Regions from separate parts of the Homo sapiens genome. Here region 1 is reported to be linked to region 2. Evidence: microRNA targets listed by miRTarBase, many of them from high-throughput screens and not tested one by one. Region 2 holds a microRNA gene; the other region holds the end of a gene's coding sequence.

What was found. The annotated mature microRNA hsa-miR-3144-5p reads AGGGGACCAAAGAGAUAUAUAG and lies in region 2 at 4,879-4,900, shown strand. An mRNA with a match to its seed (bases 2 to 7 or 8) in the 3' UTR can be bound and repressed. Matches are read on the target gene's strand: a 7mer-m8 pairs with bases 2 to 8, a 7mer-A1 pairs with bases 2 to 7 and ends in A, and an 8mer does both.
Region 1: the mRNA of CFAP263 is a reported target of hsa-miR-3144-5p. Seed matches in the 3' UTR shown: 7mer-m8 at 4,965-4,971 and 7mer-A1 at 3,837-3,843.

What each region holds. Positions count from the first base shown.
Region 1 is chr16:58,278,722-58,285,721 of GRCh38, reverse strand. It overlaps CFAP263 (cilia and flagella associated protein 263), which reads right to left. Exons shown (of 9, transcript NM_014157.4): 9 at 1,886-6,031. The coding sequence ends at 5,945. PRSS54 (serine protease 54) reads left to right here. Exons shown (of 7, transcript NM_001305173.2): 6 at 1,001-1,132; 7 at 4,965-5,725. The coding sequence ends at 5,498. Among named protein-coding and RNA genes, the nearest start is that of PRSS54, 13 kb to the left of the region's middle. RefSeq lists a silencer at 4,423-4,717.
Region 2 is chr6:120,010,313-120,017,581 of GRCh38, forward strand. MIR3144 (microRNA 3144) reads left to right here and starts at 4,867; the gene lies at 4,867-4,945.

The DNA of each region.
Region 1 (7,000 bases), not on the chromosome of region 2:
GACAGGGTCTTTTCCATGCAGTGGTGCCATCACGGCTCACTGCAGCCTTGAACTCCTGGGCTCAAGTGATCTTCCTGCCTCAGCCCCGAGTACCTGGGACTACAGGCACATGTCACCATGCCTGGTTAATTGTTTTAAATTTATTTTTGTGGAAATGGGGTCTTGCTATGTTGCCCAGGCTTGTATCGAACTCCTGGGCTCAAGCAAGCCTCCCACCTCAGCCTTCCAAAGTGTTGGGATTACAGGCGTGAGCCACTGCACCCATCCAGTGGCCATTCTTACATCACATTGGTCCTTTACCCTCTAGCCCTACACCAAAACTGGAAGTACAGAGGCAGTGGACACCCTGGAATGAATACAAGTGTACAGAGAGGTGAGGGGATGTTAGTCCCCGAACTACGGCTGATTGTCCTCTTGTCTAAGCCATCGTTGTTTTCTTTCACTTTGGGGAAAGAAAGAAACAAGGAAATGGATACTCTCTAGAAGAGGAGGAAGGGTGTTCTCTGCCTGTTTGCACATTCAAGTTCAAAGTGGAGGTAGTTTTCAGTAAAAACTCAGTCACAGGTTCTTATTTCTATGAAAAAAAGGGATTTATAAGAACATTCCTGGCAGGGCACAGCGGCTCATGCCTGTAATCCCAGCACTTAGGGAAGCCAAGGCAGGTGGATCACTTGAGGTCAGGAGTTCGAGACCAGCCTGACCAACATGGTGAAACTCCATCTCTATTAAAAATACCAAAATTAGCTGGGCGTTGTGGTGCATGCCTATAATCCCAGCTACTCCGGAAGCTGAGGCAGGAGAATTGCTTGAACCCGAAAGGCAGAAGTTGCAGTGAGCCAAGATCACACCACTGTACTCCAGCCTGCGTGACAGAACAAGACTCCAACTCAAAAAAAAAAAAAAATTCTCACTCTCGTTTGGCTATATGAGTGGGAGTTGTGTTGACATAGGGGACTGCCTTCTCGTTAATAATCCCTGGGCTCTCTGTTGCATGGTCCAGACAGGAAATCACATGACGATGAGTGTCCTGAGGAAAATCTTCGTGAAAGATCTTGACATGTGTCCCCTATACAAACTCCAGAAGACAGAATGCGGCAGCCACACGAAAGAGGAAACCAAGACTGCCTGCTTGGTAAGAACATCATGGAGTAGAAGCTAAGTGTTGAGAGTAAGCCTTGGTCACATCCAGGGGAGCCTCAGGACTCCCCTTCCCTAGATGGGGAGCTCTGTGAGGGCAGGGCTTGGGATGAGTGGCTGTCTCTGGAGTGAATAGCACTTGGCAGACAGTATGCGCTCAATAAAAATCTGCTGAATGAACTAACCAGTCACGATTTTCAGTGTAACATGATGAAGCTTGTCTAAGTCACAGGTGCTTTTTAACTAGCTAAAAATTTGAAAGTCTGAGTCCAAACCACAGAGGCCGATATGCTTTGAGCAGGTCTACAGTGTGGGGCTGCTGTATTCAGCTTCTAGGGAACCTAGACTCCCCTCTGATGCTATCAGTTACTGAGTTTTTCTTCTCTGAGAAGCCCTGCCCTCCACCCAGATGAGGGCTGTACGGATGTGGCTGTCCTACTGCCTCAAAAAAAAATGTGTAGAAGTCACACACACCTGGTTCAGGCCCCTTCATATCCAAATCTGGAGAAAGTGTGGCTTACTAGGGTCACACAGTCAATAAAAGTTACAGCAAAGACAAGGACCTAGGTCTACCAGATATCCAGACAGTGTTTATCTCCTCTGCTCTAGAATTGCTTTTCTATGAGGCTTAACACACACTCTCCTCTAAATAACCTTCAGGACACCTGATGGGGAATTTTTTTTCCCCATAGGATCCAGAAAGGCAGGATTTTTAGAGCAAGGGGAAAAAATACATATATACAGACAATTTTTTTTAAAAGTCATTTTATTGCAAAACATGAAGGACTGCCTCTCATTAAGAAATATGTTTGCCCTTCCAAAGTTGGTGTAACATCTATTGAGTGCCTATTTTGTACTGGGTCCTCTGCCAGGTGGGGGATCTTAACAATTTCTTAAATTAGATAATGTGTTAAAATACAGTGAAGATATAGCTTTTTAACAAAATTCTGCCGTCAACCATTCCGTCAAACAAGTATCATACTTCCTCAGATCTAAGATGCTGCCAATTATAGAATGCACCATCATTTTTTGTAATCCCAAGAAAGAAAAAAATGCTGCCCGTTAAACTCTGACATCAACTGATTAAAAGACACACCCTAATTTCAAAGATGTTGATTTCTAACTGTATCTTAGACTCAATGGAATATTCTAAGCTATTTCTACTCTAACTGACCATCTTTTAAAATCTAACTGCAAAGTTCAGGTTGGTTTTTAACTGTGACACACCTCTAAACATGCCTTCATTTTTGAACAGAATTATGCTTGCACACCATTTAATGGTGACCCGTCCCCATAGAATCCTCTGTCTTGGAAATATGTTCTCATGTCCAGAGGTCTTCAAAGCCACAATTCCCACATGTAGAATCAACCACCAGGTTCAGAATCTGCCTATGGGTTTCCCTGAAACCCAACAAAAGCAGAATCACTCTGCACTCACCCATCCTGCCTTTATTCTACCACTGTCAGGGCTTTTGCTGAATGTCAAGGGAAAAGATCACAAAATGAAAGACCCCACTCTGGGCTGTGGCCGCTCCCTTGGGAGATGAGGTAGGGTAGCTCCAGAGGGGCACCTGGAGCTGTTCGCCTCTGCCTCTTGTGCTTCAGAAGTCGCAGCCCCTACAGGATTATGGGGAAGAGAAAAAGCGTATATGCTGTGCCCAGGTGGGTGGAACAGTGACCTGCAAAACCACGCCATAGCTGAGGACATCTACCAATCACTCATCCAATCATTTGTCCTAAATCACATTCTTTTTCTTGCTCTGGCTATACCACTACAGTTAAGACAAACTGCGAATCGGACTGATGAAAGGGGGAACCACGTCATTCTTGGCCAGGGAGCCCCCATGACCTAGGCAGACATAGTGAGGTGCACACAAGGGCCTCTTCACCAGTCAATTGAAAAGTCAGGAGTGCCACACTAAAGCACCCCCTTCCATCCAAGGAGAGGCACAGAATGAAGTCCTCAAGGCCTTCCTCACATGTCTGGCCTTGGCCTGCTGAGAGATCACCAGGGAATCACGGCAGCTTTGCAGCATGGCCTCCCCGCTGGCCTGCCCACGGAGTTGCTCCCATGTTTTCCCACTGGTCTTCATCTCTGTTCTGGTGTGGCTTCCTTGGAAAAGAGGAGCTTTATTGAAAGAGAATACCCCACTGGGCATGGTAGTTCATGCCTAATCCCAGCACTTTGAGAGGGCGAGGCGGGCAGATCACTTGAAGTTAGATTAAGACCAGCCTGGCCAACATCGTGAAACCCCATCTCTACTAAAAATACAGAAATTAGGCCGGGTGCAGTGGCTCACGCCTGTAATCCCAACACTTGGGGAGGCCGAGGCGGGTGGATCATGAGGTCAGGAGTTCGAGACCAGCCTGGCCAACATGGTGAAACCCCATCTCTACTAAAAATAAAAATTAGCCAGGTGTGGTGGTGGGCGCCTGTAATCCCAGCTACTGGGGAGGCTGAGGTAGGAGAATCGCTTGAACCCAGGAGGAGGAGGTTGCAGCGAGCCGAGATCATGCCACTGCACTCCAGCATGGGGGACAGAGCAAGACTCCATCTCAAAAAAAAAAAAAAAAATTAGCTGGGCATGGTGGCGCATAGCTGTAGCCCCAGCTACTCGAGAGGCTGAGGTGGGAGAATTGCTTGAATCCCAGAGGTGGAGGTTGCAGTGAGCCAAGATTGCACCACTGCACTCCAGCCTTGGGGACAGAGAAAGAAAGAGAGAAAGAGAGACAGAGAGAGTGACCAAGACAGACCACACACCCAGGTCTCGGATGGTAAGGGGCTGAAGCGGCTGCTCTTCTGCCTTTCTGCTGCTCGTGGTTCAGTCTGTTCAGATTGTTTCCTGTTGTTAATTGCGGCCCCATTCCATGTCTCAGTCCAAACTGCGAGAGCAACATGTCATTGCCTGGGCCTTCCAGCCAGGCAGGCCACACAGGTCAGAAGTGGCTGGCTAGCCTGGGGATGACCACCCCCTTCTCGGACCAAGATGGGCCATGGGAGGGGCAGGAATTCCTTTGAGAGGAGACCTAGGGGTGTGGGGTCTGGGCAGGTAAGGTAAGTGATACCTACTAGTTGCCTTGTTGCTTTTCCCATTTTCCCCAACTTTTCAGAAAAATGCTGGCCTTTATAGCGACATCAGGATGATGGTAGCTAATATTCTATTGAGTGTTTGCTGTGTGCCAGGCACTGTGCTGTGCTCAGCACGTGTTACAGGCATTAACTGTGTTCCCACCTTGGCTCAGAGAGGATTTGGTCACTTGCCAGGGTCCCATATCTAGCTAATGATGCCAAGCTTCTACTCCGTCACTTTAAGTTAGATAAAGTGTATGTGGCAGAATTCCCAAGTCCCAGAGGACTGCTCCATTGGGAGTAGGGAAGACCCAGAGCACGGCCAGCCAGGCTGGTAAGCAGTTGCCAGGTGGCAGGAAGTGGCTTACACTAAGGGTTGAAGCAAGGCAGAGAAGGGAAAATGTGAGCATTTCAGGACAAAACAGAAACAAACACCAACATTTCAGGAATGAGAAGCCAGAAGAGAGGGAAGGTTTGGCCAAAGGACTGGAAAGGGGCAAGAAAATGAAATATGAACCAGGAAGCTATAGGCAATCAGCAGAAGTCCACAGCTAATTTGCATAATAAAAGGAAAAGTCATCTTGTTGGAATTTGTGGTGGTGGCTGCCTAGATTTGAAATTGTATCCTATAATTTGCCCCATTTCCAGTGAGAACCAGCGTAAAACATTTCTAGAACAAACAGTATATTGCACAAGGATAGATTTACAACAAAAACTAGTTTTTCTAAGACTTGAAGCCTTCTGTCTTTTATCACAGGGGGACCCAGGAAGCCCAATGATGTGCCAGCTACAGCAGTTCGATCTGTGGGTTCTGAGAGGAGTCCTGAACTTCGGTGGTGAGACGTGCCCTGGCCTGTTTCTGTACACCAAGGTGGAAGACTACAGCAAATGGATCACATCCAAGGCTGAGAGGGCCGGCCCTCCCCTGTCCTCACTCCACCACTGGGAAAAGTTGATTTCTTTCTCCCACCATGGACCAAATGCCACCATGACACAGAAGACATATTCTGATTCTGAACTGGGCCATGTTGGATCATACTTGCAGGGACAAAGAAGGACCATCACGCATTCACGACTAGGAAACAGCTCTAGAGATAGTCTAGATGTTAGGGAGAAGGATGTAAAGGAATCAGGCAGGTCTCCTGAGGCGTCTGTACAACCCTTATACTATGACTATTACGGTGGGGAGGTGGGGGAAGGTAGGATTTTTGCAGGTCAGAACAGGTTGTATCAGCCCGAAGAAATCATCTTGGTTTCCTTCGTGCTTGTTTTCTTTTGCAGCAGTATCTAGTCCAGGAGCTACCCCACCAAACTGAAGAGTAAACTGAGAATGCTGAGTGCCAGGCATTCACCATGCTGTTTTGATGTCTGTTTTTGATAGTTGCACACTGGGGCTGCCACGGATAAGCCCATGGCATACACTGGGCTGGCTCTCCCTCCTCTATCCCTCTCCCAGGTGTGGGAAGGTCACTTTCACTATGCTTGTGAACTAAATGCTGGCTAACAAGTGTCAAACCATTAGAGTGCCCTGTGGTTCTTTCAGTGGTAACAGTTCCAGGGGCCAGGCTGTGAAAACACTCCCCATGGGCAGATGTGGCCCAGGAGATGATACGCAGCCTGGGTGGGGGGTTGGGAACACCAGGCAGACAGGGAACAGTGAGAGGAGCCCGTGACTAGAAAGGAGCTGATTACTTTTATAGGTCATGTAGTGGTCTGTAAGCCGTGGCCTGCCTCTGGCTACTTCCCAGCAAGGTAATCTGCCTGCAACTGCTCATTGGTTATTTTCATTCGATTCCAAGCCTTACGATGGCCTTTTAAGGACATCTGCAAAAAAAAAAAAGAAAAAAAGAAAAAAAATGATAAAGGAGATGGGGGAGAAAGTCACTTGGGGAAAACTGATTGTGGCTACTGAGAATGCAGCCCTCATCCAGCCCCGTGATGGTGCAGGCAACCCTGTGTGGGGCAGCGTGTCCTCCATGCATGCTGCTGTGTAGGGGCCACAAAGGGGCAGCACCCACCGGAAGATTTTTCTATAGAGCATGTTTCTTCTGTTCAGTAAAGTGAGAAGTTGCATGTTCCTGCCACGATTCTGCTACTTCTCAGCTTCGGATCTGAGGGGCCCAAATTTGGATCCTAATTTACTCTCTGCTGCAAAATGGCCGCAGGAGAGGCAGGACAAAGTAACACAGGAAATGGGAGCCAGGGTCTAGATGTGAAAACGCCAAGGTACCAGTTTTCCAAGTGACCTGACTGGCTTTCTAAGCTACTCTGATGATGTCCTGCATGACCTCAGTTTGCAACCTGGCCACGGCAGCCTAGGTGCTTGTCTTTCTTCTGACACCAGCATATGGTTTCCCATTGCCCATTTATCTCCCGCAGCTCACAGGAGCAAGGGTGCTTCCTGTCACATGGTACCATATTCAAAGTCTGCGGGATTCGTTCAAAAGCAGAAAGACCCATGGCGACTGTGTACATGCATGGAATGAGGTCCTGAGTGATATTAAAAAATCCATCACTATCTCATTTAAAAAAAAAATGGACTTCTCCATGTATAAAGTAGCAATCACTAAATTACCAGTGCAGAGGGATTCAGAAACTTCTAGAATTCATTAAGATAACAAGCAACTAAAAACACACTATTACTACAGAGTTTCTCCCTGAAAATGGAAAAGACTCTGCCCCTAACAATGCAAAAGGGGGAACTTTCAAAAAAAACAAATCATCCTTCGTCTTGGTTTAATAGTTAAAGCAACTGCTGAGGTTTCTCCCAGAAATTACATATCCAAACATCTG
Region 2 (7,269 bases):
GCATATGTACCCCCTGAATTTAAAATAACAGATGACATTTTATGTTAAAGTTTGTCAATTATTTCAAATTTTTTTGGGGGATTGCATTGAATCTGCAGATTACTTTTTGCAGAATTGATATCTTAACCATATTGAAACTTCCAATCAATCCACCTATTTAGCTTTTAAATCTCATTTATCAAAATTTGTAGTGTTTGGAATATAGGTATTGCACATCATTTGTTACCCTTGTTGTTAAGCATGTTCTTTGGAACCTATTGTAAATCAATTTATTTTAAAATTTTATTCTGCAATTTCTGCTGGCAGTATATATAAAAATACAATGACTTCTGTATATTAATATTGTACCCTGTGGCATTACTTAATTTATGTATGCTTAGTAGTTTTTATACTACACAGGAATTTTACATACAAAATTATGTGCCAATAGACGGTTTCATTTATTTCAGATTTCTAACTTTTATTTTGTCTCTGTTTCTTATTTCAATGGCTTTTACCTACAGCGTGATATTGAGTAGGAGGGGTAAGAATGAGCATCCTTGTTTTTTTACCAATTATTGTGGGAAAGTATTCAATAGTTTACCTTCATATGTGATGCCAGCTGTTTTCTCTAAATGTTCTTTACCAATTTGCTGATAATTTTAAAATTATAAATCGATATTGTTTTATATATAATCTTTGCATCTTTTGAATTAATCATATGGTTTTTCTCCTTTATTCCTTTGTAATAATGATTTGCATTAATAGATTTTTGAATGCTATACCAATCTTGCATTCCTGGCACATCCACTAACTTTTCCTCATTATCTATCTGTTTATATATTGCTGACTTTCATTTGCTTGTATCTTAGTAATAGTTTTCTTGTTTCTATTCATGAGGGACATGAGTACATATTACAATTTTTATATTTTTGTCAAGTTTTGTAGTAGGATTATGCAAGCTTTATAATAAATGGGAATTATATCCTCTCAATTTCTAAAATAATATGTATCAGATTGCTGTTTTTTTTTCTTAAATATCTGATAACATTTACAAGTGAAGTGATCTGTGCCTTGGGTTTTCTTTGTGGAAAGGTTCTTCATATTCTATCTCTTCCTGTCTGTCTGTCTCTCTGTCATTCTTTGTATATATCTATCTACGCATATACACATGTAATTATAAAGGGCTATTCTGATAGACTGTTTTATATTGTGCTACTTTTTCTTGGTAAGTTGTACTTTTCAAGGAATTTGTTCATCTTATCTATGTTGCTAAATACATTGGCATACATTGTGTTATATCACAACGATAACATCTACATTGATAAGCCCTGTTGTATTTCTGATGTTGGTATCTTGTACTTTTTTCCTTTATTAATCAATATCTCAAAATATTTCTTCATTATCTTCAGCTTTTCTATTAGCCAGATTTTGGCTTTGATAATTTTCTTGATTGTTTATTTTATATTTGATTTTCTGCTCACTTATTTATTCTTTCCTTTAAGTAACTTGCACTTACTTTAGTCTTTTTCTTTTTTAGCTTCTTAAGGTGAAACCTTAGATCATTGAGTTCAGAGTTTTCTTGTTTTGAAATACAAGCATTAAAGCTGAAAATTTCCCTTGAAACATTTCTTTAGCTGTATAACACAAGTTTTTATATGTCTATTATTCAGTTTGAAACATTTTCTAATTTCCATTGGGTTTTTTCTTTCACATGTAAATTATTTAGAGGCATATTTAATTTTTCAATATTTTGTGGTTTGTGGATATATTACTATTATTGATTTCTAAATGTAATTACATATTGAATAACCTTACTGTGACTACTGTAACAAATTATGACAAACTCGATATCTTAAAACAACACAAATATGTAACAATACTCTGGGTATCATCCATCTTGGGGGAAAATTCCTCTTCTATGGACTTCCGAAAGTAGAAGACAAGTTATCTGCCTCCAAGATACAGTGGTTAGAGAGACATGGGATAACAATTGTAGGAATTACTGTTCCTAAAGGGAGAAAACGGAAGAAAGGAATAATCAGTTTCAAGAAATTTTGAAATCTAACTAGAAAAATTCCATTATGTTTCAAAGCCTAGGATTAACTCTCTGTCGTTTGAGACTCCATGCCTAAGCCCAAGATTCTGCCCTTGAAGGTGTTCTTCCTTTTTCTGGAAAGAGAGTGCATATTTGCAGCTGAGTAGTTTTATCAGCCTGTTTCCTGTCTGTAAAATTTTGGGAGACCAACAACTTTTTTATTTTGCCTCCATCTCAATCCAAGCTAGTAATGTTTCTGGTGACATAACATTATCATTTAGGTATATGATCTGTCTTTAACATAGCATGTACACCTGGAAGAAATGTGTGTTCCGCAGTTATCTGGTTTAGTGGTCTATAAATATCAATTAGGCCAAAGTTGTTGATTATCTTATTTAGATCATCTGTATCTAATTTGTATCTGCATCTAATATGTATCATTTGTATTTCTAGTTTTAGTTTGTTTTTGTGGGTACATAGTAGGTGTATATATTTATGGATGTTTTATGCAGACATGCAATGTAAAATAATTAAATCACGGACAATGGGGGTATCCATCCCCTCAAGCTTACTATCCTTTGTATTAAGAACAATTCAATTATATCCTTTTAGTTATTTAAAAATGTACAATTATTTCTGACTATAGTCACCCTGTTGTGCTATCAAATAGTAGGTATTATTCTTTCTAACTATTTTTTTACCCATTAACCATCCCCAACACTTGCCCAGCCACCCACTATGCCTCCCAGCCTCTGGCAACCATCCTTCTACTCCCTATGCCCATGAATTCAATTGTTTTGATATTTAATTCCCACACATAAGTGAGAAAATATGATGTTTGTCTTTCTGTGCCTGGCTTATTTCACTTAACACAATGATCTCCGGTTCCATCCATGTTGAAAATAACAGGATCTCATTCTTCTTATGACTGAATAGTACTCGTTGTGTTTATGTACCACATTTTCTTTATCCATTCATCTGTTGAGAGACACTTAGGTTGCTTCCAAATCTTAGCTATTGTAAATACTGCTGCAACAAACATAGGAGTGCAGCTACCTCTTCAATATACTGATTTCCTTTCTTTTGTGTATATACCCAGCAGTGGGATTGCTGGATCATATGGTAGCTCTATTTTTAGTTTCTTGAGGAACCTCCAGACTTTTCTCTGTAGTAGTTATGCAAATTTACATTCCCACTAATAGTGTACAAGGGTTCCCTTTTCTCCACATCCTTGACAAAATTTATTGCCTGTCTTCTGGATATAAGCCATTTTAACTGTGGTGAAATATTTCTCATTGTAGTTTTAATTTGCATTTCTCTGATCAATGATGTTCAGCACCTTTTCATATGCCTGTTTGCCACTTGTATGTGTTTTGAAAAATGTCTATTCAAGGCTTTGCTTATTGATCAGATTATTGGATTTTTTTCTTGTAGAGTTTCTTGAGATCTTTATATATTCCGGTTATTAATCCCTTGTCAGGGGTAGTTTGCAAATATTTTCTTCCATTCTGTGAGTTGACTCACTTTGTTGATTGTATTCTTTGCTGTGCAGAAGCTTTTTAACTTGATGTGATCCCATTTGTCTATTTCTGTTTTGGTTGCCTATGCTTCTGGGACATTGTTCAAGAATTTTTTGCCCATACCAATGTCTTGGAGATTTTTGCCAATGTTTACTGGTAGTTTATACTTTGAAGTTTTAGATTTAAGTCTTTAATCAACTTTGATTTTATTTTTGTACATGGCAAAAGATAGGGGTCTAGTTTTATTCTTCTGCATATGGATATCCAGTTTTCCCAGCACTGTTTATTGAAGAGACTGTCTTTTACCCAGTGTATGTTATTGGCACATTTGTGGTAACTCTCTAGATAAAGAAAAGCTGAGCACATTCATCACCATCAGATCAGTTGTACAAGAAATGATAAAGGGAATTCCATAAGCTGAAAGAAAATTAGCAACATGAAAAAATATGAAAGTATAACAATGACTGGTAAAACTAAGAAGTCAAATTCAAAATACTATAATAATGTAATGGTATATAAACTGCTTTTATTCTTAATATGAATGTTAAAAGACAAAGCTACTAAAAATAATAGCTGGCTATAATAATTTTTAAGGGATACACAATAGAAGAACATATAAATTGTGATGTCAAACATAAGATGTGACGGTAAAAAGTTTTAATGCAATCAAAGTCAAGTTATCAATTTAAATTAGCCTGTTTTAAATATACAATATTTTATGTAAACATCATGCTAACCACAAAACAAAAGCCTATAGTAAATACGCAAAAATAAAAGGTAAGGAATCGAAGCATATCACTAGAGAAAATTACCTAATCCAAAAGGAAGCCATCAAGAAAAAGTAACGAAGGATCTATACAACATTTAGAAAACAATTAAAAAATGACAGTAGTAAATCTATAATTACCTTGAGTGTAAATGGATTAAATTCTCCAATAAAAAGTAGATAAATAGATACAAAAAAGTCCCAACTCTATACTACTTATAAAATTCTCGCCTCACCTTTAATCACACACATAGACTGAAAGTGAAGGAATGAAAAAAGATTTCATGCAAATGGAAACCAAAAGAGCAGAAATATCTATACTAGATAAGGTAGACTACATCAAAAATTGTAAAAGACAAAGAAGGTCACTATATAATAATGAGGTCAACTTATCAAGAGGACATAACAATTCTAAATACAAATGTACTCAACATCACAGCTCCTAAATATATAAAACAAATATTAATATATATGAATGGAGAAAATACAAGGAAACTTCACTATCCAGCTTCCAAAAATGGTTATTCTTCAGAAAGAAAATCTACAGGAAAACATCAGACTGAAACTACACTTTAAGGGGACCAAAGAGATATATAGATATCAGCTACCTATATACCTGTTCGGTCTCTTTAAAGTGTAGTTTAACTGATTTTTTAATGGATATATACATATCAATGGAGACATATATAACTTATGGATATAGAACATTTCATCCAACATTAGCAGAATACATGTTCTTAAGGGCACATGAAACATTCTTTGGGATAGATTGCAGGGTAGGCCACAAAACAGGCCTTAACAAATTTAAAAATATTAAAATTATACTACATATCTTTTTTGACCTCAATGGTATGATACTATAAATAATTTTAAAAATTTCATAAAATTTCCAAATAAATGGAAATTTAAAAGTCGTGACCTTTAACAATGAACGATTCAAAGAGAAAAATAAAAGGGAAATTAAAAAATATCTTGAGACAGTGAACACACAACATGCCAAAACTTATGGGATTCAGCAAAAGGAGTTCTTTTAAGGTAGAAGTTTATATCAATAAATACCTATGTCAGAAAAAGAACATTATTAACAACTTAACATTATTTCTCAAGTTACTAGAAAAATGAGCACACTAAGACCAAAGTCAGTAAAAGAAAGAAAATAATAAAAATCTGAGCAAAAATAAAAAAATAGACTTGAAAACATTAGAAAAGATTGCTGAAACCAAGAGTTGCTATTTTGAAAAAATAAAATCAACAAACCTTTAGCTAGACTAAGAAAAATGAGAAAACTTATGGGCAAGGACTTCATGTCTAAAACACCAAAAGCAATGGCAACAAAAGCCAAAGTTGACAAATGGGATCTATTAAAACTAAAGAGCTTCTGCATAGCAAAAGAAATTGCCGACAGAGCGAACAGGTAACCTACAGAATGGGAGAAAATTTTTGCAATCTACTCATCTGACAAAGGGCTAATATCCAGAATCTATAAAGAACTCAAATTTACAAGAAAAAACAAACAACCCCATCAAAAAGTGGGCAAAGGATATGAACAGACACTTCTCAAAAGAAGACATTTATGCAGCCAACAGACACATGAAAAAATGCTCATCATCACTGGCCATCAGAGAAATGCAAATCAAAACCACAATGAGATACGATCTCATACCAGTTAGAATGGCGATCATTAAAAAGTCAGGAAACAATAGTTGCTGGAGAGGATGTGGAGAAATAGGAACACTTTTACACTGTTGGTGGGACTGTAAACTAGTTCAACCATTGTGGAAGACAGTGTGGCGATTCCTCAGGGATCTAGAACTAGAAATACCATTTGACCCAGCCATCCCATTACTGGGTATATACTCAAAGGACTATAAATCATGCTGCTATAAAGACACATGCACACGTATGTTTATTGTGGCACTACTCACAACAGCAAAGACTTGGAACCAACCCAAATGTCCAACAATGATAGACTGGATTAAGAAAATGTGGCACATATACACTGTGGAATACTATGCAGCCATAAAAAATGATGAGTTCATGTCCTTTGTAGGGACATGGATGAAGCTGGAAACCATCATTCTCAGCAAACTTATCGCAAGGACAAAAAACCAAACACCACATGTTCTCACTCATAGGTGGGAATTGAACAATGAGAACACTTGGACACAGGAAGGGGAACATCACACATTGGGGCCTGTTGTGGGATAGAGGGAGCAGGGAGGGATAGCATTAGGAGATATACCTAATGTAAATGAGGAGTTAATGGGTGCAGCACACCAACATGACACATGTATACATATGTAACAAAGCTGCACGTTGTGCACATGTACCCTAGAACTTAAAGTATAATAAAAATATATATATGTAAAGAAAAATGAGAAAACTTAAAAATCAGAAATGAAGGTGGAGACATTACAATTGATACCACAGAAATACAAAAGATCCTAAGATTGTTAGAAACAATTATATACCAACAAACTGTATAACCTAGAAGTAATGTGTAACTTTCTAGACACAAATATCCTACCAAGACGGAATCATGAAAGAGTAAACCTGAACAGACCAATAATACATAAAGACATTGAATCAACAAAGTTTTCCATCAAAGAAAACCCTAAGGCATGATGGCTTCGTTAATGAACTCTACCAAAAATTGAAAGAAGAATTAATGCCAAGCCTTCTCAAATGCTTCTGATCATTAAAGATGAGGAATGTATTAGTCAATTTTCACGCTGTTGATAAAGACATACCTGAGACTGGGAAGAAAAATAGCTTTAACGGAGTCACAGTTCCAAGTGGCTGGGGAGGCATCAGAATCATAGTGGAAGGCAAAAGGCACTTCTTACATGGCAGCAGCAAGAGAAAATGAGACAGAAGTGAAAGTGGAAATCCCTTGTAAAACCATCAGATCTCGTGAGACTTATTCACTACCATGAGACAAGATGGGAGAAACCACCCCGGTGATT